Linked DNA regions of Homo sapiens. The protein of the gene in region 1 purifies or fractionates together with the protein of each later gene. This does not show direct contact. Each region holds a gene or a part of one and is shown on either strand. Other genes may lie near its edges. The genes, in order: CRAMP1, NPAT, PPP4R3B and GON4L.

What was found.
Region 2: the proteins of CRAMP1 (region 1) and NPAT purify together in Homo sapiens (affinity purification with mass spectrometry; 2 studies listed by BioGRID and IntAct, with this or other methods). This does not show direct contact.
Region 3: the proteins of CRAMP1 (region 1) and PPP4R3B purify together in Homo sapiens (affinity purification with mass spectrometry; 2 studies listed by BioGRID and IntAct, with this or other methods). This does not show direct contact.
Region 4: the proteins of CRAMP1 (region 1) and GON4L purify together in Homo sapiens (affinity purification with mass spectrometry; 2 studies listed by BioGRID and IntAct, with this or other methods). This does not show direct contact.

The regions. Positions count from the first base shown.
Region 1 is NC_000016.10:1,671,338-1,678,363, forward strand, and holds the end of CRAMP1 (protein cramped-like), read left to right. Parts: intron 1-2,543; coding exon 2,544-2,708; 3' UTR 2,709-6,571; downstream 6,572-7,026. Other genes in the region: JPT2 (jupiter microtubule associated homolog 2), read left to right, coding at 6,976-7,019.
Region 2 is NC_000011.10:108,156,710-108,163,659, forward strand, and holds the end of NPAT (protein NPAT), read right to left. Parts: intron 5,472-6,950; coding exon 5,411-5,471; intron 5,333-5,410; coding exon of another isoform or gene 5,306-5,332; coding exon 4,171-5,305; intron 2,311-4,170; coding exon 2,233-2,310; 3' UTR 506-2,232; downstream 1-505. UniProt on the Homo sapiens protein: Required for progression through the G1 and S phases of the cell cycle and for S phase entry. Activates transcription of the histone H2A, histone H2B, histone H3 and histone H4 genes in conjunction with MIZF.
Region 3 is NC_000002.12:55,558,612-55,565,637, forward strand, and holds part of PPP4R3B (serine/threonine-protein phosphatase 4 regulatory subunit 3B), read right to left. Parts: intron 6,601-7,026; coding exon of another isoform or gene 6,583-6,600; exon of another isoform or gene 6,545-6,582; intron 6,431-6,544; coding exon 6,291-6,430; intron 5,887-6,290; coding exon 5,702-5,886; intron 358-5,701; coding exon 164-357; intron 1-163. UniProt on the Homo sapiens protein: Regulatory subunit of serine/threonine-protein phosphatase 4 (PP4). May regulate the activity of PPP4C at centrosomal microtubule organizing centers.
Region 4 is NC_000001.11:155,756,189-155,763,214, forward strand, and holds part of GON4L (GON-4-like protein), read right to left. Parts: intron 6,187-7,026; coding exon 6,002-6,186; intron 4,454-6,001; coding exon 4,256-4,453; intron 1,847-4,255; coding exon 1,703-1,846; intron 1,136-1,702; coding exon 992-1,135; intron 890-991; coding exon 770-889; intron 1-769. UniProt on the Homo sapiens protein: Has transcriptional repressor activity, probably as part of a complex with YY1, SIN3A and HDAC1. Required for B cell lymphopoiesis.

The DNA.
Region 1 (7,026 bases):
TCACTGGGGCAGGTTCTTGAGGGGAAGGCGAAACGTGGTTTGTGACTCTCCACTTTTGACGAGATGCAGCGTCCCTCTTTGTTGGCCAGGCCATCTGGTTGTAGCCCTCAAGGCGTCCACCACATGGTTTGTGTGGCATTCGTGGGCAGGTCAGGCTTGCAGGGTGAAGACAGGCCCGTTTCACTGTGACGTAAAGTGCAGAGTGGCAGGTGTGTGGGCAGTCGGGTGAGGGCTCTATGGACAGGGAGGGAACTCCAGGTCCAGGAGATCATCCGCATGGGCTTAGCCCATGTGAAAGTCCTGGAGCAGCATTCCCCGAATCTAGTCCCCACAATGTTGAGACATTGGCAGGTGTTCCTTGAGGATTTTGTGGGTAGATACTTGAGGGACACCCTGGATCCAAAAAAGCTCAAAACAGCTGTTTCTCACGGACACCTCCGCTACCCAGTATCCGAATGTGAATCGTGACTCTTGAGATGATGAACTCATGGGCAGGCTTTGGAGAATTCCAAGCCAAGCCATGATATGACTGGAAATTTTAGCCAAATATACACATAGACACAATTAATAGCGTAGACCTCCATCTCACAGTGTGTGGCGTTTCTCAAACCTGTTTGGCCCCAGAATCATTATTCAGGGCACACCTTGGACTCTGATGTTTCCCGAGAAGCCAGTCTCTGTCTCTTCCCCTGTTTGTGCGCATGTTCCTAAGTGCTGGGCTCTGTGGAGATGGGCGCTGCGTACGTGCCCTGAGGCAGCATGCTCACGCCATGCTGTTGAAAGGACGGGCCACAGCCCAGTGACAGGAGCCCCTTGGAGTCAGAAATCCAGAGTGTTAGCCTCACCCCAATCAGAATTTGCACCTTTAATAAAATCCTGGGCAACAGATGGCACTTGGGAGTGAGTAGCAGAGAAAGGGTGCAGTTAGTATTTGTGAAACGCTGCCCGTCGCGAGTAATGCAAACGTGTTCACCTTCAGAAAGAGCAGATCAGCGTTTAGCATGAGATTTTCCCGAGAGCCCTCCACTCAGAACGTGAGTATGTTTCTCAGCAGGTCCTCGTCATCTGGAAGGATGGGCTGAGGCATTTGTGGATGAAAGGGTCTGGTGGTAGGGCTAGCATGAAGGGGGCGGGGGTGGAGCTGGGTGGCCCTGGGATGAAACGGGTGGGAGCTGCTGATGGACATACAGGGGAAGGAGAATTACTCTTTGCTCTGCTTTTGAAAACAAATTTTAATTTGTCTGACATTTCCCATAATCAAAGCATAAAATTTCATTTACGCCATAGCTCTATTCAGAATTTTCCAGACTTCTTGCATTCACAGTGTCATGCAGTTCATTAAGGGATATTTCTGCAGGGTCTGCTGTGTGCAAACAATGGCCCCTGTCCTCATGAGGCTTCTACTCTAGAGCAGGACGCAGACAATAAGCGCTGAAAACGGCACATTCTACGTATTTGCTCATGGGACAAGATCCCGGTGCCGAGGCCCTCCCGTCCTCCGTCTCCTCAGCTCTGTGCTGCCTCACTCACTCTGTCATGGCCACCACCTTGGTCGTGCTTTTCAGTCAAAGCCTCTTCCTGTCTCAGGGAACATGCCTGTTGCTTCTTTAAAAAGGAACGTACTCCCCATGTGTCCTCATGTCTCTGACGGGAACGTGCTCCCCACATGTCCTCAGGACTGATGGGAACGTGCCCTCACCACATGTCCTTGGGATTCTGACGGGATCGTGCCCTCCACCTGTCCTCATTTCTCTGACGGGAACGTGCCCCCAGCTCTCCTCATGTCTCTGATGGGAACGTGCCCCCAGCTGTCCTCATGTCTATGACGGGAACGTGTCCCCCACCTGTCCTCATGTCTATGATGGGAACGTGTCCCCCACCTGTCCTCATGTCTGTGATGGGAACGTGCCCCCCACCTGTCCTCATGTCTCTTGACGGGAACGTGTCCCCCACCTGTCCTCATGTCTATGACAGGAACGTGTCCCCCACCTGTCCTCATGTCTGTGACGGGAACGTGTCCCCCACCTGTCCTCATGTCTATGATGGGAATGTGTCCCCCACCTGTCCTCATGTCTATGATGGAAACGTGTCCCCCACGTATCCTCGGGTTTTACCCCACCTCCCGCTCAGGTCCCAGTCCTTGGAGCACCCTCTCTGGCCTCCTTTTCCCGGCACTCTCTGTCCCCTCACTCTGCATCTGTTTCTGCAGGCTGCCCCCAGTGCCTGTGTCTGCTGCATACAGTCTGTCTACCTGTTGGGTGTCTTCCCCCATAGGTCTCATGGCGGGCGGGGGGACCAGCACCCTCACCCCAGCCATCAGATGTGCCAGGCACATCATAGGCTCTCTGCGAGCACTTATCTAAAGAGTGTGCGGGCAGACGACAGGTGATTGTGATTCTGCACAGAGCCCTGGGCTGCCATCCCTAGCTTAGCTTCCTGCAGCGGGAGTCGATAGGAGCTTCTCGTCCTGTTTCAGGACCCGCCCTCCACTGAAGGGCCAGCAGGTCGCGGTGACTTGTTCTTCCTGTCTCCTCTTCCTGCAGGTTGTGGATTCCCAGCTGGTGTGCATGATGAACGAAAACAGCATTGATTACATTTCTCGGTTCAATGACCTGGCCCAAGAGCTGTCCATCGCTGAGCCTGGCCGCCGAGAAGCTCTGTTTGATGGTGGTGGAGGCGGCCCCGCTGTCAGTGACCTGTCCCAGTGACCACACGTCCTGGTGGCGGATGAAGCCCTCTTCGAGCTAGAGAAAAATAGATAAGCCCAGCAGCCCCAGAAGATGGTCTGAACAGAGGCATCTCCGCACCCAAGACTGTGCAACGGGCAGGAACGTGGTCACAGAGCTGCTTCCCCACGAGCAGCAGGCAACGGCGTCCAAGGAGACTAGGATGAGTTCTTGGCAAGGGCCAGCGTTAGAAATCACTGTGGTACTAGAGCCGTTCTTCACCACGCCTGGGCCCATGTTAGGGTCTGCATAATGATCCCATTTCAGCCTGTGCTCTGCCTCGATTGTTGTGTTGGACATTCCGGTGGCATTTCCTTCTGAGACAAGGGAGTATGTGTGCCTTGGTGTAGTTGCTGTGCACTAGGAGCTGTGATCTCCCTCTCTGCAGGGAGGCCCCAGCCCCTGCTGCTTGCTTTCTGCCAAACCTGTGCTATGCATCAGCTGTGCCCTCTGTGGACTGTAACGGGCAGGACAGTTGGGTGTGGCCTGGGCTCATGCCTGGTGGTGTCACATCCCAAGGCAGCAAGAGCATGGATACCGATCACAGGGCTGCTGCGGAGTCGTGGGGCCCTGGGCTGGTGCCTCCCCTCCCTAGAGGTTTTGTTCGTACTCTTAACAGGGAGTGGGGGCAGGAAGAGTCCTGTACTATGCAGGTTGTGTGGACTTTACATGGGACCCTGCTAAGCTGGTTGAAAATGTTTTTCTTGTGTTTTAAGAATTAGGAGACATGGAAGAGGAAGAACAAAGTCCCCTCTGTAGTTGGTTTCCTTCCTGTGTCCCTTTGCAAGCTTCCAGGCGATCTAAGGTGTCATTTCTCCCTCCTGGGGTGACCCTTAGGCGCTAATATGATTACAGCGAAGACTTTCCTGATAAGTTCTCAAACTCGATGTGTGACTGTTTGGCACTTGAGACAAACCTGCCTTTGCAGGGAAAGTGTCTCTCACGGGCATTGGTGTGGGCGTGCCTGACATACGTGTTCAGTCCCTTGCATACCTTTGCCTTGAGACTTCTGTGTCTCCTTCCCATTTGGGACACCCAGGTGAGGGCCCAGACATCTGGATGTGGTCAGACCTCACCAAATATATGCCTTCGTGGTGGTCTCCCTCCTTGCGCCCTCTTGGGTGGCCAGCGTTCCTACTGCAGACGGCCCAACATCCAGTCTTTCCCCAGGACAGAGCTAACAAGGGCCCCTTTGCCTTCTCATCCTCAGGAGTTCCAGGCACATGAGTCACCGTCCATCCACATCCAGTGTGGCCTGGAGCTGCTACAGAGGTGTTGGGCAGGCCATGCCTGTGCCGCCATCTCTCCCTTCCTGCCTCATTTCATCCCCCGCAGCAGCCGGGATTGATTGTGCTTTCCTAACCCCCTTGGACCTACTCTCCCTCCTCCCCACCATTCCTCTTCCCCCACATGTGTGGCACGCTGCAGCCCTCAAGGCCAGCCCTGGCCCCTCCACTGCTTCTCTCCCCATCCACAATGGAGAAGGTGAAAAGAGGAGGGAAAGGCCTTTGGTGTGGACAAGCATGTGGACGCCCTCCGTCCTGCAGTCTTGCCAGCCCACCACAGCCACTGTAGACCACAGGCAGGCCGTGTACTGCACCACTGGGAGGACGTGGAGAGGACAGTGAACTTCCAGGCAAGAGCTTCCTTCTTTTGTCTCACGAGTTTTTCTTAGAGCTCTTGCCTGAGCTGGCTTCCCTCCTTCAGACATTGACATGAGATCTTAAGCAAACAGTCCCAAACCTCTTAGGGGTGAAAAAAGAAACATGCCACTTGATTAGGAGAGAGACAGCAGTGTTTGAACTACAGCATCTTTACACTAGCTTGTGTTTTGTGCTACGTATACCAGCTTCCAAAATTAGCATCTCATTGAGCCAGAGAAGACAAGGAGATCTCCCTCTGGGCATCTGGCTTTGCTGCGTCTCTAGAGGGTTAGGATACCAGGCCGAGTTCAGGCCACTGCTAGCTTTCTCATACTCCCACAGGCTAGACCAGAGATGCCAAGTCCCAACAGCACTGAGCTGTGTGCACTGTGCCAGGGACAGGAGGGTTTGTGAACTGCCTGTCAGGGTACCTGTTAGCCCCTGACAACTCAGTGGGGTGAAGTTTTGGAGGTCAGAGTCTGCTTTCGTAGGCTCTTTAGACAGCACCTACCACTTGGTTCTCCAGCGTAGACTCCTGGGAGCAGCCAACTGCAGCCATTGCCATCCAGTGGGGAGATGGGTTAGGGAGGAGGACGGGCTGACTCCTCTCCTGTAATAAAGCTGACAAGAGTTCTAGAGGATTCTGCTTCTCTAGTAACTAGACAGGTGATACGCATTTGCTTGCCACATTAAGGGAAAATGGTGTCATTTGTTGCAGAAAAACAATGGATACATTTTCTTCTGGCCTAAATGAATATTTATGTGCAAACATAGGCAACTGTTAAAGGCTGGAATTTTCAAAAGATCCAAACAGAGACTTCCTGCATCTTCTGCCTTTCCAACAGAAGCGGTGATCGTCTAAGTATGAGCCTGTGGCTTCCTTTGTGCATTTGAGCATGCTGTAATTAAGATGAGATCAGTTTCTTAGAAAAAGCTTTCCTGAATCCCTCTGACGTTGCCTGGGATCTTTCTGTTGATTCGTCTTTTCTGGAGATTGGGACAGAGCATCTGTGGTCCAGGGAAGTTAGTCCTCTGGCCTCAATTCTGTTGTGGATGTGCAGTGATAAGCGGGCATTGCGTGCCTCGGGGGATGCCTAGTTCGTGGCTTCCTGGCTGTTTTGTCCTTCTGTGTCTTGTAGCTGTAGGGTGCCAGCTCAGGGAGTGGGGTGTTGGCGGCGTTTCCGCGGTTGGCCTCCTTGCTTTGCCGCACCTCCAGGTTCTGGGCATGAGAGGCCGTGGCCTCATTTCTGGTGGATAACCTTTTTAGTTTAATAGCATCTTTAATTAGATCACAGCATTGAATTCAAAATTTCTTCTGCAAAGAAAGTTGTGGGGCATAAGACACCGGGAATGAGGGAGGAGGAAGACAGTTGTGTTTTCTCTTTAAACCTTGAGCTCTAGCCGATGCATTTGTCAGGAAATACAGCACTTTGTCTTAAGAAAACAAGGAAGGAGGCCGGGCGCAGTGGCTCACGCCTGTAATCCCAGCACTTTGGGAGGCCGAGGCGGGCGGATCACCTGAGGTGGGGAGTATGAGACCACCCTGACTAACATGGAGAGACCCTGTCTCTACTAAAAGTACAGAATTAGCCGGGCGTGGTGGCGCATGCCCATAATCCCAGCTACTGAGGAGACTTGAGGTAGGAGAATCACTTGAACCTCAGCGGCGGAGGTTGCAGTGAGTCGAGATCGCGCCAGTGCACTCCAGCCTGGGCAAGAAGAGCGAAACTGGGTCTCAAGTTAAAAAAAGAAAGCAAGGAAAGAGTAATTTACAACGAAGGAAAAAAACCCACAGCACACCCTTCGCGGCTGTCAGCGCTCTCCTGATGTCACAGTGGCTGCGTGTCCTTGGGGTGGGTGAGGTGTGGGGAGCCCAGCCCCTGGCCCTGCCTCCCGCGCCCCGCTCCCCTTCTCTCTCTTACTCGGTTAAGCCATAGCGAGGCCTCCGCTCGTTTCAGATATGAATTTGTTTTATAGATTATAAATATGCATATACAGTGTATGTATAAAGCAGAATGCCTGCCTTTCCTGGTTATTTTTTGTACCATATTGTAAATTATATTATTTATTCTTTACCAATTTTGGGAATAAAAGGTGTTTTGGTTATTTAATATAATAAGAGCTGTTAAACTTCTGTTTAAATTTCCAGTTCAACTTGTAAATGTTTTTATTGTGCATAAATACATACTAATGTTGATCTAAGGACTGTCGTTTGTGCCTGTTCTTCAGGGCCGCGCGCCCATGCCCGCAGTCCCTGGTCGGGCAGGTGCGGCCCAGGTGCGGCCCCGCGGTCGGCTCGCGGGCTCCCGCAGACCGGGCTTCCTCCCGAGGGCGCGGCCGTCCCAGGGCCCGCCCGGCCCGCCGCCCAATGCGAGCTCCCACCTCCGCGAGCGGCGTCGCCTTCCCCAATCGGCTGCGGGCGCGGCGCCGACCGTTCAAAGCCTAAGTCGTCGGGGGTGGGCGTGAGGGGCGGTGGCCGCGCTGAGATAGGCTGCGGAGGGATGATTGGCGTCTTGGCGCCCAATGGGCGCTGGCGGGCGGCCTTGAGTACCTGCGCTGGGCGGGCGGGAACGGCGCGCGGCGAGCTGAGGGTGGCGGCGGTCGACATGTTCCAGGTCCCGGATAGCGAGGGCGGCCGCGCCGGCTCCAGGTGCGGC
Region 2 (6,950 bases), on another chromosome or scaffold:
TGAGCCTAAAAGATGATGACCAGAGAAAGGATGAATGCAGAATATATAGTAATATGCTTTTGAAATTACTCCTAATAGTCATGACATGTAGCCTTTGCATGAATGCTGATGGATGCTTTTCTTATGCGCAATTTCAACACACTATAGTTCTAATATATCCAGGGCTAAATCTGTAACAAGATTTTACTTAACAACACTTCTCAGATTTGGCATACACTGACTGCATTAACCTCTAAGTAATATCCAAACAACAGACTGGATCCTCATATGTAATTATAAAAACAGCCATGGATTGTTGTAGTATACATCAACCCTGAAATGCAGTCACTGGGCATTTAAGTATTCAAATAGGTTACCAGGTACAATAGTATAATTAAGTTCAGGACCTGTGGACTTTTAAGGTAAAATGGGGATATGATTTTGCTCTTGAACATAAAAGCTCCAAGTACAAGTTATCTTTCAACTTTACTTAGCAGTTCCTGGTTAGTTAACTATGAATCTTGAAGAAAGTAAACTTATTTTATTTGTATATGAATTTTCAGTGCTTAGTACATACAACTATGAATTGAATAAGAAGAAAACTGTGATTTTCAGCATTGTACAAACTCCCAAAAAGAACTGACTTGCAAAGGAATTTAATCAGTTTCTAAACAAGACTGCCAATGTAAAGTAATTCAAACTTTTGAAGTTAATGAAAATATTTATTCAAACCTAACTGTAGTACAGTCTCAAGCTGAGTTAAATAAACATTAACTATATGATATTTAGTTCCTTAGGAATAGACCACTGCCACACCATACAAATTTCTTACATCACAAGTTTTTGCAGTAAGGTTCAGCAATTAAGAAGACATGATTTCTACACTGAGAAATGTTGTGTTAAAGTTGGATGGATTTATTTTTTTAAAGGCCCAGTACAAAAAAATGGTTGAGGAAAGTGACTCTTCAACAAAATATACACCTGTAGAAAAAAATCCCTAATATACTGATATTTAATTGAACGGAAAGTACTAAAGAGAACATACTTTAATATCTAGGCACAATTGGTCAGGTACTAATTATAATTTCTGTTCTCATTTAAAAGTTTAAACCAATTCTTCAACTGGACTGATGTGTGTGAGTCTAATACAGAGAAGGCACCTCTCTCATCTCTCACTCTCCTTAAGGACCTTTTGAGAGAAACTCTTTGTAACACTTTAAGGGACACAGACAATGCACTATATCTAAGTATAGATATAGTTATTTAACATACCCATTGTAGGAGAAACTAAAATATAAAACTATGATTTCTCTTTTTACATCTTATGATGGACACAACACCAGAAGATAATCCTCCACATAAACTCTCACATAGAACACAAGATTTAAATTATATGTGCATTGGTCACTACAATGTAAAGAGTTCTATGAATTAGTGCAATTCTTTAAATCCCCAGCATTTAGGGGAAAAGTACATACCGAGAAATCTCTACTACAAACCAAAATTTTATGGCTCAATAGTCTAACCACTTAAAGTTCTGTAAAAAATCTTAAGTTATAAATGAAAGATCAGAACATTCAATAAATGGTTTACAAAATTCTCTCTTTAAAACAAAGAGAACAGAGTGATCAGAGTAGGTAAAGTGTGAAATTCCAGAAATATAATACTTACAGCAATTATAAGAAAGGGGTAGTATTCACTCTAGGAAAAAAACTCATCAAACTGTTGATTTCTAATTAGATATTTTGCTATCAGTTGAGGTGGTTATTATTTTGTAGTACTTAGTGATTGTGTATTTAAATGTCTTATTGAATAGTTACTGAAGGTAATTTATAAGAATAAGCATCATTTTCCTCCAAAACAAGTGAGAAACTATTCCAGATGAGTAAGTCTCAGAATTAGGGATCATAAGAAGTCAAAAAACACAGTGTAAGAACATTAGGTTGATTTAACCTCTATTTCAACAAGATTTACACAGTATTTACAATATGGAATTGTCAAAGCTATACAGTTTTGCAGATTGGCTTTACTTACATTTCTGCAAACGTTTTTCCCAAAATAAAAATATACCAAGTAAGTCTATTTACAAACTAGGAAGCTGTTTCAGAAACAGCATGATTTAGATATAAAGTGAAGTTTCAGTACAATGAAAGTGCAGGTCATGCTTTCAGATTCTGTCAATATCCCATTCCCTACACTCAGTTTAAGGGATATGAGTTTTTAACACCTACTGTTCTTATGTGTCCAGAATGTTTACTCATCATAATGCAATGATAACAAAAATTTGTCTACATCCATTCCTGCTGGAAATGAACTGGGAAGCTTCTTTTTCTGTTGAAAAAGAGAAAGAAAAAATAAACTCAAAACAAGGCCAAAATGCTTTCTTAGTAAGTCACCTAAAACAGTATATTGGGTTCTTTCACATACTACTAAAATTGTCAAACTTTTTTAGTCTATTAGAATTTTACTTCTATAGAGAAGTAGAGACAAGTTTTATAAACCCAAAGTTACTTAAATATACTTCAATGGCACCTGAATGTTAGTTTATGGCAAAAGACATGATACAAATCCAGAGTGTCTGAATGTTGAATGAGACAAGATAGAACATGCTTTCTATGTTAGGTGGTTATTACTGCTTAGAAAGCTTTACTAACAGATGTTTAGGGTTACAGGTACTTATCAGTTCCAAAACTTAATATACACTAGATACTTTATGTATACTACATTTAGACTTCACAACCTAAGATACCTGGTAATATCATGTCAAGTGATGAGGCTGAGACTCAGAAAGGCTACAGACTTAACCATGATCACAGGACCAATAAGCAGTAGATGCAGGATTCAAACCCAGACTTGTAGGGCAACAAAGCCTAAATTATTTCCCTGATACCATACTTCCTCTATGATATTTTAAGCACTTTCTTTCTATTCAATCCACTTACTAAACAGCTAACCAAATCGAAAATAAATGGATTTCATTTATCAATGCTATCCCTGCACTGCCTTCCTAGAGACAACCATGCTTAAATAAAAAACATAAGGCCAGGCGCAGTGGCTCATGCTTGTAATCCCAGCACTTTGGGAGGCCAAGGTGCGCAGATCACTTGAGCTCAGGACTTCAAGACCAGCCTGGGCAACATGGCAAAAGACTGTCTCTATAAAAAAAAAAAACCAGAAAAAATGACCAGGCGTGGTGGCTCATGCCTGTAATCCCAGCATTCTGGGAGTCCGAGGTGGGTGGATCACAAGGTCAGGAGTTCAAGACTAGCCTGGCCAACACGGTGAAACCCCATCTCTACTAAACATACAAAAATTAGCTGGGTGTGGTGGCAGACACCTGTAATCCCAGCTACTCAGGGGGCTGAGGCAGGGAATTGCTTGAACTCAGGAGGCGGAAGTTGCAGTGAGGCAAGATCACGCCACCGTACTCTAGTGGGTAACAGCGCAAGACTCTGTCTCAAAAAAAAAAAAAAAAGGAAAAAATATTAGCCAGATGCAGTGGCGCATGCCTGTAGTCCCAGCTACTTGGGAAGCTGAGGTAGGAGAATCACTTCAGCCTGGAAGGCGGAGGCTGCAGTGAGCCAAGATCGTACCATTGCACTCCAGCCTGGGCAACGAGAGTGAAACCCTCTCTCAAAAAAATGGAAAAACATACGTAAATTTGATTTTTCCACTGCTCTAATATGCTAACATTTTTAAGGGCCTATGGAAGAGATTACAAGACGTGGGGGAAAAAAAAAACTGAACATCTAAGAACAAAGTCATTTATTACTTGGTAGTTCTACACAATAGTGTTTAATATTGTTTCCCAATCTTTCATGACTATGTCACGCTCATGAAAAAACTTGAGTTCTACCAAGAAAGAAAGAAAAACTTTTTCTTTTCCCCCGGAAAGATGTTTATAAACAAATGCCTCAGCAGTTTTTCCTGAAAATGCTGTTTCACCTAGACACCTTGTGCGTACTACACTAACACTGCTGGACTGCTTTGTTGCCCTACAAGTCTGAGTTTGAATCCTGCATCTACTGCTTATTGGTCCTGTGATCATGGTTATGTATTTTGTCAATGAAAACTAAAAGCTGTCTTAGCCATAACGTTCAGTCAAGTTGTTGTGGCAAGAACTGCTGAATTCGCTAATCACTAAAGCGGAAAAAAAAGGTGTGGTTTTGAAATTAAAACTTTCAAACTTGCCTTAATTTTCTTCTTTTTCATTGGTATTGATGAATTTGTAAGATTTTTACTAGAAGGACGAGAGTTTCGCTCACGTTCATCTAATTCCTCAATTTTCCGCTTTTTTGTGGTGCTCCTTGAAGATGCTCTAAACTGTTGTGTGTTATCTTTCAGAGGAGTTGCTGAAGTAGTCCTAGAAATGGCTGCCCTGGAGAGAATCATTAATGTGTGGGCAGCCATATTTACACTGTTTTCACTTCCTGTTTCACTGGCAGGGCTGCAGGCAGGCAAGTCTGGGGTGACAGGAGGGACCATTACTTTTGATGTACTACTGTCTTCACTGAAACGCCTACTAGAGGGGGCCTTGATAATATCTATAGGTTCTTCTTTATGTTTTTCCCCTGCCCCTGAGCCAGGTGTCCGGGGCACAGGTAAATCACTACTATCAGCAAGCCTACTTACTGAGCTGTGCCTCTGTATATCCTGTAACATTTCTGTGGTAATCAAAGAACTGGCGGATTTAGTTTGTTCTTGTTTTAGATCCTTCACAGCTGTACCTACTGAAAGTACATTTTTATTGTTTGAAGATGTGCCTTGTTTTTTGGTCATTTCTTGCAGTGAAGCTATAGATTTCTCACTTCGCAAACCCCCATTTTGCTGCCCAATAGATAGTTTTGAATTTTCTGGATTTTTCTGTCTTTCTACATCGCTGCATAATTCATTCTCCTTATTAGCTGTTGCTTTATGGAAAGATTCAAGCACAATTTCTGTTGGTGAAACTTTCTTTTCTGATTGAGTTTCTCTTATGGTGGTATGCCGGCTAATGGCACTTTCCGATTTAGATAAAATCTTAGGCAGAGGAGGCTTCTCTTTCTCTCTTTTGATAGCATTATTAGAAGGGGGTTTTAAGGTGGAGGACACATTGGGTGAGTCAAGATTAGGAAAAGAGACTGCATTCCTTTCTTTGTTTTGGGACACCATCTTATGGTTTGGCCCCTGCGTATTTGCCACAGGAGCAGTAGTGCTGTCGAAACAGAGTACACGTCTGTGGCATGGTTTAGCAGCTGGAACTATACTCTCTTCTGGGAAGGGAACTGTGGTTTCTTCTGATTTTTTCCCAAGATCTGTGGCAATACTTTTGTCAGAAACTTCAGTTCTAAAACAAAACAAAACAAAACTATTTCTAGCAGCATAAAGAAATCCTTTATGTTTTAAATCTGAGCATTCAAACAATCTATGATAGAAACTACTTTATACTCACTTTTGTGCATGACATCCAACTGAATGACCTGACGAATCCACCAAATTATTTACTTGTTTTCCTGAAATTATAAATGAACATTCCTGAGAAAAAGAATATACTCCTCTGAAAGAGGATAGAACAGATGACAATTATCACATATCATGAGAAAAAATTTTAAATGGTAGCTAATGTACACACAAATAGAACACGTTGACAAAGCAGCTTTTAAAAAGCAGCTTTGAAATAAGTACAAGATGGCTATTTCCCCACTGCTACAGAGGAAATCCAGATATGGAATAAATGACATGCATCAACTTCAGGCAAATATTATGTTTGTCTGTTTTTCTGAGACAGAGTCATGCTCTATCACCCAGGCTGGAGCGCAGTGGCATGATCTCGGCTCACTGCAACCTCTGCCTCCTAGGTTCAAGCAATTCTCCTGCCTCAGCCTCCCGAGTAGCTGGGATTACAGGCGCCCCCAACCATGCTCAGCTAATTTTTTGTATTTTTAGTAGAGATGGGGTTTCGCCATGTTGGCCAGGCTAGTTTCAAACTCCTGGCCTCAAGTGATCTGCCCACCTGGGCCTCCCAAAAGGCTGGATTATAGGCGTGAACCACCGCGCCCGGTTCAGGCAAATATTATAAATCCAGTCTTTGGATCTACAAATTACAATGCTCAATATAGCACATAATGTACTACTTACATCCAGGTAGTCACTTAAAGAAAACAACAGATTATATCTATTTTAAAATTCTGTCCCGGTACCTATCATGTTTACAAGCCTATGTCACTCAGAGCACATGCTCTGGAGTTCTAATAGCCATATTTTAATTTCCACGAGCTTCAGCATTTATGTGGGAGAGCAGCAAGATATCAAAACTAGAAAGAAGAGCAAAGATGAGATTATGAAGAAACTTACATATTATGCAAAAGGTTTCAGAGGCAATCCTTTAAGAGATTTATTTATTTATTTATTTATTTATTTATTTATTTTTGAGACGGAGTCTCGCTCTATTGCCCAGGCTGGAGTGCAATGGCATGATCTTGGCTCACTGCAACCTCCACCTCCTGGGTTCAAGCAATTCTAGTGCCTCAGCCTCCCGAGTAGCTGGGATTACAGGTGCACGCTGCCACGCCTGGCTAATTTTTGTATTTTTAGTAGAGAAGGGGTTTCACTACGTCAGCCAGGCCAGTCTCAAAACTCTTGACCTCAGGTGATCTACCCTCCTCGGCTTCCCAAAGTGCTGGGATTACAGGAGTGAGCCACCATGCCCGGCCCCTTTAAGGGTGTTAAATAGGGAAGATGCATGAATAGGTTTATGTCTTTGGAAGATCTGGCAATAATGTGGAAGATGGAACTGAGAAGACAGAAAACTGGAAGTAGAAACTCTATGTAGATGGCTATATTCCAGGTAAGAGATGATGAGGGTCTGAGAGACAATAATGGGCATGTACATTTCCAAAAGTAAAGGAAAAAAATAAATTGTGACATTAACCAAGGGGAAAAACACTAGGCAGAAGAAGTCTTTGAGGAAGAGAGGTGAGAAATATGTAGTT
Region 3 (7,026 bases), on another chromosome or scaffold:
ATAAAATAAAATAAAATAAAATTCTACAATCAACATTTTGGTAACAGAAAAATTCTAAACAATTCATTGAAATTGTTTTGATTATCCAAATTTTTTTCAGTAAACATGAAAAAATCTCACAGACGGGAAAAGCAAAGTTTGTGTGTAATGCTGTTTCACCTACCTTGGTGGCTGTTACTGACGTAGGCAAGTTTGTGGTTTTGGAAGAGGATCCATTAGAAGTTGCTGGTGGTATCTGAGCCACTACAGATTTACTGTTTGTTCCATTAGCAGCACTGGCAGAGTGGGAGAAAGTAAATTTGAAGCCACCAGGAGATGTCCTTTTGGGAAGGTTTTCCTTGTCTTCACTTTCTTTTGCTAAAGCAAAAGTAAAATTTTGAACGTATATCAATAAATACTGCTAAGTCAAAACATCTAAAAACAGCAGTAATTAAAAAACTTATAAAACATTGCTGCCCGGGCATGGTGGCTCACGCCTGTAATCCCAACACTTTGGGAGGCTGAGGCAGGCAGATCACCCAAGGCCGGAGTTCAAGACCAGCCTGACCAACATGGAGAAACCCCGTCTCTGCTAAAAATACAAAATTAGCCGGGTGTGGTGGCGCATGTCTATAATCTTAGCTACTTGGGAGGCTGAGGCAGGAGAATCACTTGAACCTGGGAGGCAGAGGTTGTGGTGAGCCGAGATCGCACCACTGCACTCCAGCCTGGGCAACAAGAGCGAAACTCCGTCTCAAAAAAAACCAAAAAAACAAAAAAAAATAACACCAAAATTAATTGCCTTTGTTTCCTAAGAACTTTTGAAAAAGAACATGATGTGTACAGTGATGATATGGTCTGGCTCTGTGTCCCCACCCAAATCGCAAATCAAATTGTAATCCCCACATGTCAGGGGAGGGACCTGGTGAGAGGTGACTGGATCATGGGGGTGGATTTCGCCCTTGCTGTTCTTGTGATAGTGAGTTCTCACGAGATCTGGTTGTTCCAAAGGGTGGCACTTCCCCCCTTGCTCTCTCTCTCCTGCTGCCATGTAACACATGCCTTGTTTCCCATTCACCTTCCGCCACAAGTTTCCTGAGGCCTCCCCAGCTATGTGGAATTTTAAGTCAATTATACCTCTTTTCTTCATAAATTACAGTCTCAGGTAGTTCTTTAGAGCAGTGTGAAAACGAACTATACAGAAAATTGGTAACAGGAATGTGGTACTGCTATAAAGATACCTGAAAATGGCAGGGCGCAGTGGCTCACGCCTGTAATCCCAGCACTTTGGGTGGCTGAGGAGGGTGGATCACTTGAGGTCAGGAGTTCAAGATCAGCCTGGCCAACATGATGAAACCTATTCTCTATTAAAAATACAAAAATTAGCTGGGGGTGGTGGTGCACACCTATAATCCCAGCTGCTCTGGTGGCTGAGGCAGGAGAATTGCTTGAACCCTGGAGGCAGAGGATGCAGTGAGCTGAGATTGTGCCACTGCCCACCAGCATGGATGACAGAATAAGACTCCATCTCAAAAAAAAAGATACCTGAAAATGTGGAAGCGACTTTGGAACTGGGTAATAGACAGAGGTTGGAACAATTTGGAGGGCTTAGAAAAAGACAGGAAGATATGGGAAAGTCTGGAACTTCCTAAAGACTTGTTGACTGGTTTTGACCAAAATGCTAACAGTGATATGGACAATGAAGTCCAGGCTGAGGAGGTCTCAGATGGAGGTGAGGAACTTATTCGGAACTGGAGTAAAGGTCATACTTGGTATGCTTTAGCAAAGAGACTGGCGGCATTTTGCCCCTGCCCTAGAGATCTGTGGAACTTGAACTTGAGAGAGATGATTTAGGATATCTGGTGGAAGAAATTTCTAAGCAGCAAAGCATTCAAGTGGTGGCCTGGGCTGGGCACAGTGGCTCATGCCTGTAACACCAGCACTTTGGGAGGCTGAGACAAGCGGATCACGAAGTCAGGAGTTGGAGACCAGCCTGGCCAACAGGGTGAAACCCTGTCTCTACTAAAAATACAAAAATTAGCTGGGCGTGGTGGCACACACCTATAGTCCCAGCTACTTGGGAGGCTGAGGCAGGACAATCAGTTGAACCTGGGAGGCAGAGGTTGCAGTGAGCTGAGATCATGCCACTGCATTCCAGCCTGGGCAACAGAGAGAGACTCCATCTCAGAAAAAAAAAAAAAAAAAAAAAAAAAAAAAAAAAGAGGCCTTCTGGCGGTTTCTAAAAGCGTATGCTCATATGCATGAAGAAAGAGATGGTCTGAAATTAGAATTTATATTTAAAAGGGAGCAGAGCATAAAGTTTGGAAAACTTGCAGCCTGACCATGCAGTAGAAAAGAAAACCCCATTTTCTGGGGAGAAATTCAAGCTGGCTGCAGAAATCTGAATAAGTAACAAGGAGCCAAATGTTAATTCACAGGCCCAGAGGCCTAGGAGGGAAAAATGGTTTTGTGAGCTGGGCCCAGGGCCCTGCTGCTCTGTGCAGTCTTGGGACACCCTGCATCCCAGGTGCTGCAGCTCCAGCCATGGCGAAAAGGAGCCAAGGTACAGCTTGGGCCATGGCTTTAGAGCGTGCAAGCCCCAACTCTTGGTGGCTTCCATGTGACACGGGGCCTGTGGGGTAGAGGCAAGAACTGAGGTTTGGTAACCTCTGATTCTCAAACCACCTAGATTTCAGAAGACATATAGAAATGCCTGGATATCTAGGCAGAAATCTGCTGCAGGGGCAGAGCTCTTATGAAGAACCTCTACTAGGGCAGTGCGGAAGGGAAATGTGAGGTTGGAGCCCCCACATAGAGTCCCCACTGGGATACTGCCTAGTGGAGCCATGAGAAGAGGGCCACCATCCTCCAGACCCCAGAACAGTAGATCTACCAACAGCTTGCACCATGCACCTGGAAAAGCCACAGGCACTCAACTCTAGCCCATGAAAGCAGCCATGGGGGCTGTACCTGGCAAAGCCATAGGGGCGAAGCCAGCCATGGCCCTGGGAGCCTACCTGTTGTATCAGCATGCCCTGGATGTGAAACATGGAGTCAAAGGAGATTATTTTGGAGCTTTAAGATTTAAAGACTGCCCTGCTGGGCTTTGCACTTGCCCAGGGCCTGTAGCCCCTTTGTTTTGGCCAATTTCTTCCATTTGGAATGGGAGCATTTACCCAATGTCTGTACCCCCGTTGTATCTTGGAGGTAACTAACTTGTTTTTTATTTTATAGGATCACAGGCAGAAGGGATTTACTTTGTCTCATATGAGACTTTGGACTTGGACTTTTGAGTTAATGCTGGAATGAGTTATGGGGGACTGTTGGGAAGGCATGATTGGTTTTGAAATGTAAAAAGGACATGAAATTAGGGAGGGACCGGGGTGGAATGATATGGTTTGGCTCTTGTCCCCACCCAAATCTCATTGTGAATTGTAATCCCCAGGTGTTGGAGGAGATGACTGAATCATGGAGGCAGAAAACCCCCTTGCTATTTTTGTGATAGTGAGTTCTCACGAGATCTGGTTGTTTCAAAGTGTGTGGCACCTCGGCCGGGCTTGGTGGCTCATGCCTGTAATCCCAGCACTTTGGGAGGCCAAAGTGGGTGAATCATCTGAGACCAGGAGTTCAAGACCAGCCTGGCCAACATGGTGAAACCCCATCTCTATTAAAAATATAAAAATTAGCTGGGTGTGGTGGTACATGCCTGTAATCCCAACTACTTGAGAGGCTGAGGCAGGAGAATTGCTTGAGCCCAGGAGGCAGAGGTTGCAGTGAGCCGAGATCACGCCACTGCACTCCAGCCTGGGCAATGAGAAGGAGACTCCATCTCAAAAAGCAAACAAACAAACAAAAGTGCATGGCACCTCCTCCTTCACACTCTCTGTCTCCCGCTCCACCATGGTTAAGATATGCTTGCTTTCCTTTCGCCTTCGACCATGACTGTAAGGTTCTCGAAGCCTTTCAGCCATGTTTCCTGTTAAGCCTACAGAACTGTGAGTTAATCAAACCTCTTTTCTTCATAAACTACCCAGTCTTAGGTAGTTCTTTTTAACAGTATAAAACGAACTAATACAAGTGGTAAGTCTTTATTAGCTAGAATCTTAGAAATCTCAGTATTAGAAAGGACCTTACGGATCATAACAAAATTAGCCATTCTATGCTAGAACTCTACATTGTGGTATCTAGCACATACATCTAAAATCTCATTAGCTGTCTGACTCTTCCTTTTATTGTCTCCCTGTAGCTTCCACTCACTGACTCTACACTTCTTTACTCATGGTAAAAACCTAGTAATTTCTCTCACAAGTCAATATTCCAAATGCCTAAAGACAATGATCAAGTCCGTAAGTCCTAAATATTCCAGGTTCCTTTTTCTGTTTGTGTTATGACATAGGTGTCCAATCCCTTTTAACATCTGGTTATTATTTTTATATATGATTCTTAACAGCATCTCACTCAACACTGGATACAGAACTTCAAATATGGCTGTACTGCCTCTTTTGACAATAGTCAGGGCAGTACCTGTAATGAGTAAAGGCAGAAGAATTTGTCTAGCAAAGGTACCGATTTCTTAGGATATTTTAATAAGCTTTTTGCTCCGCCACGCTGAGGCAAATAAAACTTATCAAACTAATGAGTTGAAAATGAGTACGAACAATAGTTTCAAAGAAAATGTAATAAATGAAATTAATTTTCTGAGAATTGTCTTTAGAAAATGTCACATTCAAAATCACAAACTTACATAATAAATCCAAGAAAGGCTTTTATCTTCTAAGACATAAATTTTTTCTTTTGTTTTTGAGATAAGGTCTTTCTCTGTTATTAAGCTGGAGTGCAGCGGCAGCTCATGGCTCACTGCAGCTTCGACCTCCTGGGCTCAAGTGATCCTCCAGCCTCAGCCTTCCTAGTAGCTGGGACTCCAGGTAAGTGCCACTGTGCCCATTTAATTTTTGTGTTTTTTTGTAGAGACAGGGTTTTACCATGTTACCCAGGGTGGTTTGGAACTCCTGGGCTCAAATGATCCACCTGCCTCAGTCTCCCAAAGTGCTGGGATTACAGACGTGAGCCGCCATGCCCAGCAAGGTATAAATTTTAATTAAATATTTAAATGATATACTCAGGGCAGTATTCCAAAAAATGGTAATTCCTCAGGCCACAGAAGTAAAATGGTTAGTTCTTTTGAAAGATATATTACTAGCAAGATCTTCATTTTATAAAACAAGTTAAGCACATCTGAAAGCCAGGGGAAGTTTTACTTTTTCACTTCTCTTGTTAGTATATCTTTATGTAACTTTTGTAATTTTAAAATTTCAAAGAGCAAAGTTACTTGTTTGAGCTCAGTTTATCAGCTGTAAAAGACACAGGCAAAGTACTCTAGAAGGTTTCTATGAAGCTATATGGTCTCTGTTATTACTGAGAATTTCAGTATAGAAATAAAGCCAAGACTATTCACAGAAAGAAAAGTATAAGTAGATAATTCAATTTCTAACTAGCAAATTAACAGCATTACAAAATAGCAAGTTTGAAGAGAAACATTTTAAACATGAAAAGAATTCCCAGACAGATTTGGAAAAAGTACATAATTTTAAAAGAACACAGTTTGGTATAAAATTTTTGTCTTTCTTGCTTTGTAAACTATAAACAAACCTTCACAAAGCAACAAAATAATTTCTGCACTAAATAAGAGGGTACACTGTGCAAAAATTCCGAATTTTAATACCTTTTTTAGTCTCCATAAACTTTTCATAATTATCTGGAAAATCATCTTCTGGCTTAGGTTTTTCCACTGGTGCCACAACTGCTTTTCCTTCCTCTTCTTCATCTTCATTAAACCACATTTCTTCATCCTCTTCCAAGGCTTTTGCATCTCTGCGAAATCTGTTACTACGCAATATAGATGGTACACTGTAAGAAATATATCACAAATATTGAGTAATGATTTAAAGTTCATCATCAGATTGAACTGAAGGAAAAATATGTATAACCAAGATGAACTGAAGTAATTTTAACTGACTATAATTTATATCAAAATAATCTCTGTAATGATAGAAGATGTAGCCAGAGAACACTCCAAAATATTTTAGGATGTTGTAAATTAAACTAAATATTCTTCGTAAGTTACAACATGGAGTAGTAATTCAACATATAAATGATATGGGGTAGGGGGGACGCCTTACCCTCCTATTCAACTCTATGCTATCCAGTGATGGAAAGAAAATTCCTCAGTAAATTTCACATGGAAAATCTGAACTACAAACAATTTTGGACACAGTTTTGTAGGCTATAAAAGCAGTATACTTAAACAATACCTGTTCAGTTTCTGATTTTGTCTGTCTTTTTCTTGCTCATATTTAGTCTTCAATCCTTTGAATGTCTGAACATATTCAATCGATTCAAGTGCTTTATAAAAGTTTTCAACTATATGGGCAGTAAGAGACTTGATATCTTCCTGTATAAGCACAAAATTTACATTTAAAATATAATACAATGCTTGTTAGAAGAAAAACTTTAAAATTTTGTTTTGTAGTTCTAAAGCTGATCAAAAAAGGTTTTTCAAAATCACCTTCCAAAATGTAATGTCCTGGTTTCTTTACACATGAGTCAGGACTGCACAGAAAACTTGAAAAAAAAGGAGAAGCAATTTACTGGAGTCCTTTTATAGGACTATAAAGAGCATTCGAAAAGTAAATAGATTTATTTTACATCTTCTATTTTTTGTATATATATATATATATATAGCAGTTTACAATTTAAAAAGCACTTTTACATAAAATTTCATTTGATCTTCACAACAATTCTATGAGATAGGTTTTATTATTCCCATTTTAGAGAAAAACCAAAATTGAGGCTCTAAGAGAGGCTGGATGGTTTGATCCAGAGCACACGGCTGGTTAGAGGGCAGATGTTAAAATTACATTTTCAAAATACTCACGGTGATGGATACCCCAAATACCCGGACTTGATCATTACACATTCTATGCATGTAAAAAATAAATACATGTACCAAATACATCTGTATAATATTATGTATTAATAAAAGAAAAA
Region 4 (7,026 bases), on another chromosome or scaffold:
TCCATTAAAATACTTCCCAGAATGCCTGACACTTTGTAATACAACTAAGTATTAGCTGCTATCATTATTATTAATATGGGGAATCTTGGTTCTATTTTATTTTTTTAATAACAAGCTCATCCTCAATTGGCTCTATTTTCTCACATGAGCAAAAATGAAAAAAGTTGAATTAAGGGTAATAACTCTGAGCTAGACAGAAAAGGGGAAGAAACAAATCCTTCTAACTAGGGAATCCTGGGGCCCCTGCAACAACTGCAGTTTTCCCAAAGGCTCTGCATGTCTGTATCAGCCTGACCTTTGGTTTGTTCTCCGTGATCGTCTCAGATCCTAGAGCCTTTGAACTAGAAACCTTGGGCCATAGTAAGCCACAGAAATGTTCAGTGAGAAAACGCAAGGCTTGATTCATGAAACATAGATAATTTTCAATAACTTGGCATACCTTATCATGATTTTAGGCCAGGCGTAGTGGCTCACACTTGTAATCCCAGCACTTTGGGAGGCCGAGGCGGGTGGATCACTTGAGGTAAGGAGTTCGAGACCAGCCTGGCCAACATAGTGAAAATCCATCTCTACTAAAAATACAAAAATTTGCTGGGCGTGGTGGCTGGCGCCTGTCTGTAATTCCAGCTACTTGAGAGGCTGAGGTGGGAGAATCGCTTGAATCTGGGAGGTGGAGGTTGCAGTGAGCCAAGATTACGCCACTGCACTCTAGTTTGGGTGACAGAGCGAGATTCTGTCTCAAAAACAAACAAATAAACAAAGAAAATACCTTATCATGATTTTGGACCCCGATCTCTTTTTTCCTCTTGTTCTTTGAGGCTGTGGGTATCTTGGGAGGCTCCTCCTCTTCTTCCACATCAGGCAGGGCCACTTCTTCAAAGCCATCAAACTGAGAAGGAGTTGGTGCTGCTGAGCACAGACACCAGGCCAATATCCCTCCCACGTGTGGCCTTCCCCCTTCATAAGGCTACAGCAGCCTTAGGTCCTATACCTCATACTCCTTTTCCTCAGTCCAATTGATCTCTTCAAAGTCACCCATCCGGCTAGCTGCTGGGCGCAAGTGGTCAAAGAAGATAGAAAACTCATCCTGCAGGTGGTCGTGGCCCTTGAGGAGCTGCCACATCTGTGTCTTGAGCTGAGGAGAGTCACAGAGGGAAAGAGGAAGTCTCCAGAGCCTCTCTAGGCTGCCCTTCCCAATCAATCCCACATACTTCCATGTTCTGCTTTCCCAGTCAACTGGGAAACACACAGAGACTCTGCCTGGTAACAAAGAATACTAAAACTTTCTCTTCCTCCTTAGCTGCCTATAGGGGAAGGGTACTAATACTGGATTTGATTCCTAATGATTCCACTCTCCACTCCACCCTACTGATCTCCAGCTAGGGCACTATTCCAAGCAGAGCAAGGAGGTAAGGCCCCTCCCAGGTCCCAGAACCTCCTTCGCTGAACATCCCTTCCAGCACATCCATGGCATTCCTGAGCCTGTGAAGATCAGACAGGCTCCGGTTTCAGGTAGCAATCCCTCCCTATCCCAGTGCTTTATGCTTTGGGTGAGCCTGAAAAGTCCTTGCCTTTTTCATCTCCTCCAGGAAGCCCATGAGCCTCCAGAGGCAAAAAGGTATGGAGTAGGTTGGGGAAAGAGACAAGGGAAAGGCCTAAGGCCCGGAAGACAACAGGAAGAAAGCAGGACAGGAAAGAATACCTCGGTGATCTCCTGGGGAAGGCAGTCTGCACAGCCTTGGAGGACCTTGATAATCTTCTGGTGGTGTGAGGGGTTCTCTGCAAAGCAAATCTCCAGCTGCCGAAGGAACTTGCGGCTCTTCTCAAAAGCCTGCTGCTCCTCAAACTACCAGAGTGGAAAGTGGGCAAAAGAGGAGTCATGATACAGCTAGAGCAGGACTTGAGGGTTCTAAGGATAAGAACTAGTGGACTAGGACACAAGAGATGACAGAACCCTGGTTTAAAATTCTAGTTTACAACTATTGAGATCTAATTTAAAACCCTAACCTCCATCCACCTTGGGCCACTGGTGGGTAGCCACCCAAAGCAATTAAGATGTGAGCAACAGCTTCAAGAGATGTATATATTTCAAGTTGTTTGCTGTTTTAAGGATTGTGAAATCAGCCACCAAAATTCATATGATACTTTAGAGTTTATATTACAAAGAACTTTCAGGCTGCACAAGGTGGCTCATAGCTGTAATCCCATGTTGGGAGGCCAAGGCAGGAGGATCGCTTAAGGCCAGGAGTTCAAGAACAGCAACATACTGAGACTATGTCTCTACAAAAAAATTTAAAAATTAGGCAGGGGCCGTGGTGTACACCTGTAGCTTGAGCTACTTGGGAGGCTGAGGCAGGAGGATCCCAGGGGCCTGTGTTGTCCAGGCTCATCTCAAACTCCTGTCTACAGGCCAGCTGTGGTGGCTGATGCCTGTAATCCCAGCACTTCGGGAAGCCGAGGTAGGCAAATCACCTGAGGTCAAGAGTTCGAGACCAGCCTGACCAACATGGTGAAACCCCATCTCTACTAAAAATACATAAATTAGATAGGTGCGGTCATGCATGCCTGTAATCCCTGCTACCCGGAAGGCTGAGGCAGGAGAATCACTTGAACCTGGGAGGCAGAGGTTGCAGTAAGCAGAGATCACACCACTGCACTCCAGCCTGGGTGACAGAGTCAGACTTTGCCTCAAAAAACAACAACAATAAAACAACAACAACAAAACTCCTGGCTACAAGGGATCCTCCCACCTTAGCCTCCCAAAGTGCTGGGATTACAGATGCCAGCCACTGTGTCTGGCCATTGTCTCTCTCTTTTTTGTTTTTGAGACAAGGTCTTGCTCTTGTCACCCAAACTGGAGTGTAGTGGAGCAATCATGGCTGAGTGAAGCCTCAACCTCTCAGGCTCAAGTGGTCCTCCCACCTCAGCCACCCAAATAGCTGGGACCAAAGGTGTGCACCACCACACCCAGTTAGTTAATTTTTTTATTTTATGTAAAGATGGGGTCTTGCTATGTTGTCCAGGCTGGCCTCCCAAAGTGCTGGGATAACAGGTGTGAGCCACCATACCTGGCTGACATTATCTCTTTAAAAAAATTTTTTGGCCAAGTGTGGTGGCTCACACCTGTAATCCCAGCAATTTGGGAGGTCGAGGTGGGCAGATCACCTGAGGTCTGGAGTTCGAGACCAGCCTGACCAACATGGAGAAACCCCGTCTTTACTAAAAATACAAAATTAGCCAGGCGTGGTGGTGGCGCATGCCTGTAATCCCGGCTACTCGGGAGGCTGAGGCAGGAAAATCGCTTGAACCCAGGAGGCGGAGGTTGCAGTGAGCCGAGATCACGCCACTGCACTCCAGCCTGGGCAACAAGAGTGAAACTCCATCTCAAAAAAAAAAAAATTTTTTTTTTTGTTCACGTATACACTGATTGGAACCTCATAATACCAGAAGAGAAAATGGGCATCACACATTATATGCAGAACTACCCCACTGTCATTTAACCCCAATAAAACTCTTAGAATAATCCCGTTCCTCCCTTTGTTCCTATTTTTATGACGATAAGTCCAGGACTACTGGGATATCCCTCATGTTTAGCCTCCTATTCTGCAACATTTCACGTTACCATACCACAGTGGCCTTCCCAGACCGCTGTGTATAAAACCACCCCTCTAGTTTCCTTTCCTGCTTTATTTTTCTGTAAAACATGATCACTATAAAACATTGTATACTATATATTTTGCTGTTTATATTTATTTTTATAATTTATATTTTATATATTATATATATATATATATGATATATATATATATATGTTTTCTGGAGTATCATCTGAATTTCCTCATGATAACGTAAGCTCCACGAGGGCAGGAATTTTAGTCTTTTGTAATTACTATATTCCTAGCAATTGAGGTCAGGAATTGCTAGGAATTCCTGACAGTTAGGAGGCACCTAACAAATATTTGTTAAATGAATGTCTGGCTTGATACCAGTGAGAAGCAGAGAGCATATGACTCACCTAAGGTGTCCTTTGGCAACTATAGGTAAAACCCTCTCATTTATCATGTAAAGAAAATGGGAGAATGGGATTGGAAAGATAATACCCTGAAAAGACAGAGGCTTTTATCACTCTGGGCTAGGGGATGGCTGTGTGTCTGGAAGGAGCTGGGAGACTGAAAGAGTCTTATTCAACCCCATTCAATCCCAGTCTCACTCTGACCCAGGAGTCCCAGTGTACTTTTTTTCCCCATTCACTTACTAATCCACAGGCCAGAGCTTGCTCAGGTAACAGGAAAGCAGCAAAGTCTTTCAACAGCTGAGGCCAGTCTTGGAGCAGAATTTGCAGGCTTTTGTAGAGATCTACAGCCGTCCGTCTCTGGGTACTTGACTCAAATTCATAGATGACTTGAAGGAAGTCTTCATACTTGCCAGGGATATGTTGTAGGGCTTCTCGCACCTACACGGGAAGACTTTCAATCATCAACACCCTTTATTTGGGCCACAACAAGCAATAAGGGTACAAGGGAGAAGGCAGGGTTATGGTTAGAGAGCTCCAAGAATTATCCATCAGAGGCTGTGCCTCCAACAGATCTTAACATCTGACTGTTAATGGAAGACACAGAGCAATAGGCAAGGTAAAGATCTTTTTCTGGGAGTGAGCAAGTGAAAAATCATCTTCCACGTTCCACAGTTCTACCCACAAAACCAAGCAATGCTTTTCTCTAGGTCACAGCCCTAACCTTTCCTTACTGATTACAGCCCCATAATGAAATAGGTAACATGTGTTTGTACATGTATTTCAGCATGGGCGTAATTTGAGAGTAAATAATACATAAGTTAGGAATGTCAGTAAAACATTAGGAGATAAGAAAAAGCTATGACTATCATTGCCAGTATTCTGCTTTCCAGGGGGATAAAGGAATCAGGTGGTTACCAAGAGAAGGACACAGTTCTCCAGGACACTACCAAGAAGTGGTTAGCTTATGTGTGGTTTTTTTTTTTTTTTTTTTTTTTGAGACAGGGTCTCATTCTGTTGCCCAGGATGGAGTGCACTGATGCAATCATGGCTCACTGCAGTCTCAACCACCTGGGCCCAAGTGATCCTCCCACCTCAGACTCCCAAAGTACCTAGGACCACAGGCATGCACCACCATGCTTAGCTCACTATTTTTTTTTTATTTTTGTAGAGATGGAGGTCTCCTGTGTTGCCCAGGCTTGTCTTGTCTTGAACTCCTGGACTCAAGGATCCTCCTACCCCAGCCTCCCAAAGTGCTGGCATTATATGCAAGGGCCACAGCGCCCAGCCTGGTTCATTTTTTTTTTTTTTTTGAGACAGAGTGTCGCCCTGTCACCAAGGCTGGAGTGCAGTGGTGCGATCTCGGCTCACTGCAAACTCCGTCTCCCAGGTTCAAGTGATTCTTGTGCCTCAGCCTCCCCCGTAGCTAGGATTACAGGCGCCCACCACCACACCCGGCTAATTTTTGTATTTTAGTAGAGACAGGGTTTCACCATGTTGGTCAGGCTGGTCTCTAACTCCTGACCTCAGGTGATCCACCCACCTCGGCCTCCCAAAGTGCTGGGATTATAGGTGTCAGCCACCACGCCCAGCTGGTTCATGTCTTAAGAGCAATGTATTTTCCTGAAATCCACTTGCTGGCCAGTGTACCCACTATCTTTCTTCTCAAGCCAAAGGTTCTATAAAGGTCCTTATCAGCGCACCCAGTAAAGTCACAACCTCCCACTGATGATGGTGGTATCATCTTTCTGCCAATCTCTGGTCAACAGAAGGATGATGGCAGGGTACTAACAATAAACATACTTATGATTGAATTCTATGTCTCCTTGTGGTTCTGTCACAGAGATCTTTTGCCAGAAAAGCCAAGATAGAGGAATATGAAGCCTGTTGCATAGCCTGAAAAACAGACTTTATGTTGAAAAACATCTCCCTTGAAGAAGCAGCCACATTCATAGAGACTGGCAATAACAGGAAGCAGCATTTGCCTACCCTGGTCAGATAAGCTTGGGCAAAGGCCAAGTCCTTCTGCTCCCTGAGTGGATCTCGCTCGAGAATGTCCTCATCATACAGCAACAGCAGCTTGGAGGTGTCCTTGCTGGCCCGAGCCCGACTTCCCCGCTTGTTGCGAGCTCGATGATTGTTCCGGCCTTTTCCAGCAGCTTTGATGCTCTCTCCTTGTAGCACACATGAAAAGGATTGTTTCCCTGTCCCTGCAACCTGTGTTCTTCCCATTCCACCACATGCACCACCCCAGCCAAATCCTATTCAATATTATGGAGCAATTCAAGGAAAAGGTTTTTGGGAAAATGGTATGAGAACTAAGTCCGTCAAGTCAGTTCTACGCAGAGTCTGCAGTGTAACTGCCTTAATTGGGATGACAACAAGATAATCAGCTACTTCATATTGAGAAAGGAAGTCTAAAGAGCAAGTGTGGCTTCTGTAGTGCTTTTGAGAGACTATGTCTTGATGAGGAACAAGCAGTGTTTTCTGAAATAAACATGGGTCTTAGCCCCACACATGACAGATAAGGTAACAATCAGTTTAACAAAGTGAACTGCCAGGCACAGTGGCTCACGCCTGTAATCCCAGCACTCTGGGAGGCCGAGGCGGGTGGATCATAAGGTTAGGAGTTCGATACCAGCCTGACCAACATGGTAAAACCCCATCTCTACTAAAAATACAAAAATTAGCTGGGTGTGGGGGCAGATGCCTGTAATCCCAGCTACTCAGGAGGGTGAGGCAGGAGAATCGCTTGAACCTGGGAGGCAGAGGTTGCAGTGAGCCAAGATCGCACCACTGCACTCCAGCCTGGGCGACAGAGCAAGACTCCGTCTCAAAAAAAAAATAAAAAAATAAAAAAAAGAAAGAAAGTGAACGAAGCTAATATAAATCTAGCAACGGATGAGAATTGAATTAAAAATTTCTGAGTATCTGTTCTCCACAAAGATACCACATTAAACATGTTTTGGGGGAGGGGTGTTGCAGAAGAGATCCAGAGGGTTTCCTCTGGAAAT